2 linked regions of the Homo sapiens genome follow. The protein of the gene in region 1 purifies or fractionates together with the protein of each later gene. This does not show direct contact. Each region holds a gene or a part of one and is shown in the gene's direction. Other genes may lie near its edges.

Region 1 (3,664 bases):
ATCTACCCACCTCGGCCTCCCAAAGTTCTGGGATTACAGGAGTGAGCCACTGCACCTGGCCCCATTGCTTTTTAATATCCATTTCGATTCAGTCTTATCTGTATTTGAACTCTAGCTCTAATTAGTGGCATGATCTTGGGCAAGTCACTTTACCTCTCAAGGCATTTCCCCACCTGCAGAAGGGGAATAACTATCTCTCCTTGTATTTTAAAAGATGATACATACAAAAGGTTCTAACACAGTCAACCATTACAGTTACCTAGTTCATGGTCACTTTTCAAAGGAAACAAAGTTGAAAGTTGAAGTGGAGGCCATTGATGAAAGGGTAGGGCCATTTTATTTCTTAGTATAGAATCTAGCAAAAAAATTAAGGGAGGAAGTTGTAGACTAATGACTGTAATGAACTTAAGGGGCTGTTTCTTGATTTTAATTATCCATGCTATTGCTACCCCCATCACCACAGACAATCAAGAAGCATGAGTCAGCACTGGCATAGCAACATGGCCTAGCAACCTAGTAATGTAGGTTAATGTTTTTCTTTCTCATTAAATGAATAAATGAAGCAACTTCTTGTTTTTTCTTTTCTTCATTTTGGTTTCAGTGACAAAATGTTCCCTGCCTTTGGGTTTGGCGCCAGGATACCTCCAGAGTACACGGTGAGTGAGTGGAGATGTGATCTTCTTCCACTTCACTGTGGTCAAAGGATAACTTGGCTCTTCTTTGCAGCAGTCTCACACTCCTGACTCTGACCTAACTGTGTCAGTAGGGCCTACAGAGTCAGAAATTGTCTTCAGAATCAGTGAGATTAACTCGCCAGGGCCCGTCTCTTGATGAAACCCTATCTCCTGGTATTTTGGATGGGTCTTCTCAGAGGTCCAGATGAAGAGTTTCATTGTTTAGTTTCTTATAAATGTGGTCAGAGTCTGAGAAAACACTCAAGAAGTTGATCTCCAGGGGCTCAGAACCTATTCACTCGTATATCCCCTAGGAAATAGAATTCTATTGGCAATGCCAACTGGGAAAGTCCGTGACAATGGAGTCTACAGACTTTCTTATCCCAAGTCTCCGAGTCCAAGTCTTGTATGGGAGACACAGAGAAGTTTTGAAGAAAGAACTATTATGACTTAGAGAATTGGGAAGCTGAAATGTTCTTCTGAAGACGTTGGAATCCTATTTGGTTTTGATAATGATTTCTCATGACAGAAAAAAGGCAAAGATTGTGTGTAGATAAATTTGCACTGTAATGAGGCTGAGACACTACTGTGATATTCTAGATGCTCCTGTAGAACATTCTCCACAGAGAACTCGTGCCCACTAGGTGGACAGGGCCTTGGAGAGACAGCAGGGTACCTCTCCCAGCCTCCACCTTACCAGTGCCTCTGAGGTCTGAGCTAAGTACAAACAACACTGCCCAATCCTCAATTTCTCTTTTACTGGCTGTGTCTGAGCCACAGGTGAGGAGGTAGATGCTGACATTTGCTCCCTCACTAGAGCCATCATATAAAGGGCTTTCCCCTTAGGTATCCTTTTTGAAAGAGGAAATCAATATCCCTGTTGCTCCTAGAGTGAATAGTGGATGGAATCGCTTGTCTCCCTGACCTGTTCTCCTTCTTTCTTGCCTTGTATTCCACACTGGCCTTTCTGCTGGGCATAGCTACATAATTCTAGAAGCATTTATTAGAAATACAGCTTGTGGAGAGAAAGAATATAGAACAAGAGTTATCAACTGGTGGCCTATAGACATTATTCAGGCCACAAATATGTTATATTTGACACACTTTTAAAAAACGAATTCAGCAATTGCATATATAAAATGTCAGATTTCTGGTTTCTCTTGAAAACCTGAAAGGCCTGGCAACACTAAGATTAAAAGATGACCGATACAAGAATAAGCTGGAGCTGAGGAGATATAGGCCCCTTCAAATCGGGAATGTAAACAGGTGAATGCCCACTTTCTTCATAGAGCTGCTGAATAGCTCAATAGCCATCAGCCCAACTACCCAGGGATTCTTGAGTTTTCACCACATCCCCACCAGGTGGTCTTCCAGCCTCAGGTTGGCCCAACAGGGCTGAGGACAGAGCTATGCACCATACCTTTTTCTCACTAATGACATCTTTTTGGTTCCCTTCCTGGAGTAACTAATCTTTCTTGCTGTTTTCTGAAGTCCTCTTGTTCACTTGATCCCCTAACTCCATCCTTCCTGTCAGCAAAATCCCCTGGTTATTCTTGTTTCAATAGGCATCTCTCACATTTCCCCATTTCGGGTCCCCTAATTTCTCCCATTCCTCAGACAAGCACTGATGATTTGAGCAGCTCAGGTGCCCCCAGGAGAGTTTACAAGGTTGCCACAATTTACTTCTTAGGACAAAATCTGAAAGTATGCATTGAAACTGAAACACAAGCACCTCTCTTTCTTAGTTAGCACTTTCTCAGAAACAGATCTTGAGACAAGGGTTTGGATGCAAATAGTTTATTTAAAAGGTGAGGGAAACCACAATAGAGGTTGGGAAGTGGAAGTCAGCACAGAGTATATTATCAAGTCAGTTACCGCTGTTGGCAACTGGTGCTTAACTCTGCTGAAGAACCCTAGGAGACAATATACAGCACACATGGACCCCAAGGGATAAGGGAGCTGGGATATGTATACATCACCTCCTGTTAATTACTGATTACTCCCAAGGGTCACTTTTAGCCTGTCACTTGGGCAAGCAAGGCAGGCCCTGGAGGCCAAGAAAAAACTTAAGGTAAACAAAGCAAATAAGATGACTGAAGTCAGCTGGCTTACCTGGAAGTGCTAAGAGCAAGGGACTAGGATAAGCACTGAGAGCATCACCGATCACCTCCCACTAAGAAAACAGGTGTCTTTTAACACAGTGACCTAATTTATGGATACCCAAAAGAGTCAGAGCTTGGAAATATCCTTTGAAATGAAATTCTCCATAAAATACCAAATGATTCAATAAAAATGTCCAGATGCCAGAACATCTATCTTGTTTTATCAGGTTTTCGGAAAGAAAAAAGTAAACAATATGTTATTTGACCTTGTGCATAGGTTCTGCCAGGTAGAGGAATTTGTGTTGAAATATTACAAAGTATATTACTTTACTATGTTTCCAAAAGTAGAGTGCAGTCTGTTTTACCTGTAGGTATGTGAAAATCCTCCTGCCCTGTAGTTCTGCATATCATGTTAATGATTCTTAAGTGTCAACTGCTTAGCTGAAGCTTTTATAACCATCGCTATCTTCAGCAGACAGCTTGGGTTATTGAGTTTTTTTGTTTTTATTTTTGTTTTAATCACTGGGTCCAAATAGAGCTCAGCCAAATCTAAGCCTCCAGTCTGTGGCCAGTTCTAACTAGCAGCTATTCAAAGTTATCTTTCTGAAATCTTTTCTTGGATTTTTTTATAAGCCTTATTCTCCCCTCCTGACAGCATTTATCTGATTCTAGAAAATATTCCTGTCACCTCAACTCCACAGGGAGCTTAGAATTCACCCTCCATCTCATATTGATTGTGTAAAGGCTTGAAATGGTTCCTGCTGCTTAACACATAATGAATATAATGGGCATTTGTTTGCAAACTCTAAACCCCAGTGCCTTCTTACTGGATTAAAGTTGTAATTCTTCTTTCTTCCTGTTTTTTAAATTTTAATCGGTGTCTAGGTC
Region 2 (2,615 bases), on another chromosome or scaffold:
ACTTGAGCCTGGGAGATCAAGGCTGCATTGAAGTCTCATCACGCCACTGCACTCGAGCCTGGGTGACAGAGCAAGACCCTATCTCAAAAAAAAAAAAAAAAAAAGAACCCCCCCCCCCCACCAAAAAAGGCATGTGATCAGTAAAAAAGACATTATTTGCTTATATTGTAGAGTGGTTCTAAAATATAGATTTTACATTGAGAAATTTTAATACTCTCTTTTTTCTTTTTTTTTTCTTTGTTTTACTTTCTAAAGATGAGGAAGAAAATGCTTCCCGTTCTTCTGGATGAGCATCCTATCTTCGTAGTTGGTTTGGACTTCGATAGGTTGATGGAAGGAATACTTCTATTAACCAAATAGAATCTGTTTACAAAAATGGTTCGTGTGTGTTACCATTATTCTTTTGTCAAAAAGTGTGTATATATGTTTGCATTTACATATATTTGTACATCTGTATGACAGATGTATTTTAAAAGTTTCAACTTGAAGTAAAAGTACAACAGCTTGAAGTGTTGATACCAGGCCACAGCCCTCTAACTCATGTGATCTCCCATGCATGCTGCCAGAATAAAACCACCAGGAATGAATTCACTCCCCACTTCTCTGGAACCTCAGGACCCGCCCATTTCTCGGCAGTACTGTGAATTTTGAAGTTAAACTAAATTTTGGTACCATACCAACTGGAATTTAGGCTTTAAAAATAATGTTTCAAGGCCAGGTGTGGTGATTCATGCCTGAAATCCCACTACTTTGGGAGGCTGAGGCTGGAGAATCGCTTGAGGCTAGTGAGCTGTGATTGTACCACTGCACTCCAGCTCGGGGAACAGAGCGAGACCTTGTCTCTAAAAATAATAATAGTAATAAAAATAACGTTTTATGACTATTTATTGCAAGGTCAGATTTACAGATTGTTATAAATTGTTGAGAAATTTTTGTGATTAGAATATGAAGGAAAAAGCTTTGTTGGTAAAAGTGACATGTTAAGGGGCTATGAAGTAAATATGCTGCAGTTAATTGTGCTAAGTTAAAATACAGTTTAGTTATTTGCTTTAAAATAAACTCTTCTTTTTTTCTTTAAAGTATACTACCTCAAAACTCATTATGTTGTCAGAGCCCTAGAGCTGGCTAGTGTAACACTGACTATGAGTAGGTGGGCCCACCACTTGAGTTGAGGTGATTTCATGGTGTCTTTCCAGGCTCTTGATAGGGTGTCACTGCATGCAAGCCATGAATCTGTTTTGAGAATCCTCTCCATTTTCCCAAATAAAAACCTATCCCAACAGTGACTATATCACTCAGCATTGGATCTAAATATAAAAGTGGTGCTTTCAGTGTTTTTGGCAGATAGTGTTCCATAACCTTTCCATCAGAAGGGATTTTAGACACCTTAGAGGTCCGTGCTACATCTTCACAGTTCCTCCGAATAACCTTAGGTGGTAGTGTTACTTGCCTTTGACACCTGTGCATATGTTTTAATGACTAGATCCAAACTGTGTTGTTCTTAAATCAAAAATTGGATAATTTTTAATATTTATGTATTAATCACACAGTGTGCTCTCTGAAGTTCTCTTAAGCCTTCAGTTTATACTCTTAATTTTCTTTCTGAGCTGGGGAACTGACTTTGCACTTTGGTTACACAGAACATTGGTTTCCAATTTAGTTTAACTGAAATTTGCTGCTGATATGTTGAGTTTGTTCTTTAAAAAATATCTCATATATCTCGTCTTTCCTCCTTAGAAGAACAGACCTAACTAGCGAATGTATGAATGAAAATGCATCTATTTCAGAGCCGACATGAAGAGTTTAGTTTTTTTACTTTATAAACTGTGAATATGAGTATGCCAGCTGCATTAGATGTAACTAATCATATTTAAATATATTTCACTTTGACTTTAGACCTTTTGAAGTCTGTATAAACTTGTTTTGAAATACAGTCTCCACTTACGAATGTCATAACAAAATACTTTTTTGCATGATAAAAAATTACTTTGATTACAAAAGGCATATTCTTTCATGGTTTCTGCAATGAGAGGAAGTGTAATGATTATTTTAATATTTCTATTAAAACTGTATATTTTTATGGCTGCTCTTTTATGTTACCCACTGTCTCTTTGGGGTTGTTAATTGGTTTCTGAAAGGGAACTTCAAACTCCTTTACTACTGGCCTTCCATGGTTGGTCCCTATTAGGTTGTTGTGAGAACGTCGACCAACTCTTTGATACCCGCCAGGTAGACCGTAGTACCTGCCATGTCTGACACCCTGCATCCAGCTAAAACCAGAAACAGCGCTGGGCCTCCCTGTGGACAAGACATTGATTTGACCAGAAGCAGATGTCTGGCTAAGGCTGCCAACCAAAGGGTGGCCTTAGATGAAGGGCTTTGTTCAGTTAGGGGCAGAGGTCATTAATTTTTTTTTTTTTTTTTGAGACAGAGTCTTGCTCTGTCGCCCAGGCGTGAGTGCAATGGCGCGATCTCGGCTCACTGCAAGCTCTGCCTCCCAGGTTCACGCCATTCTCCTGCCTCAGCCTCCTAAGTAGCTGGGACTACAGGCGCCGGCCACCATGCCCGGCTAATTTTTTGTATTTTTACTAGAGACAGGGTTTCACCGTGTTAGC

Evidence for each region.
Region 2: the proteins of CPNE4 (region 1) and RGPD5 purify together in Homo sapiens (affinity purification with mass spectrometry, with the first as the bait; 2 studies listed by BioGRID). This does not show direct contact.

What each region holds. Positions count from the first base shown.
Region 1 is NC_000003.12:131,552,489-131,556,152, reverse strand, and holds part of CPNE4 (copine-4), read left to right. Parts: intron 1-601; coding exon 602-656; intron 657-3,661; coding exon 3,662-3,664.
Region 2 is NC_000002.12:109,855,607-109,858,221, forward strand, and holds the end of RGPD5 (RANBP2-like and GRIP domain-containing protein 5/6), read left to right. Parts: exon of another isoform or gene 1-83; intron 84-255; coding exon 256-290; 3' UTR 291-2,099; downstream 2,100-2,615.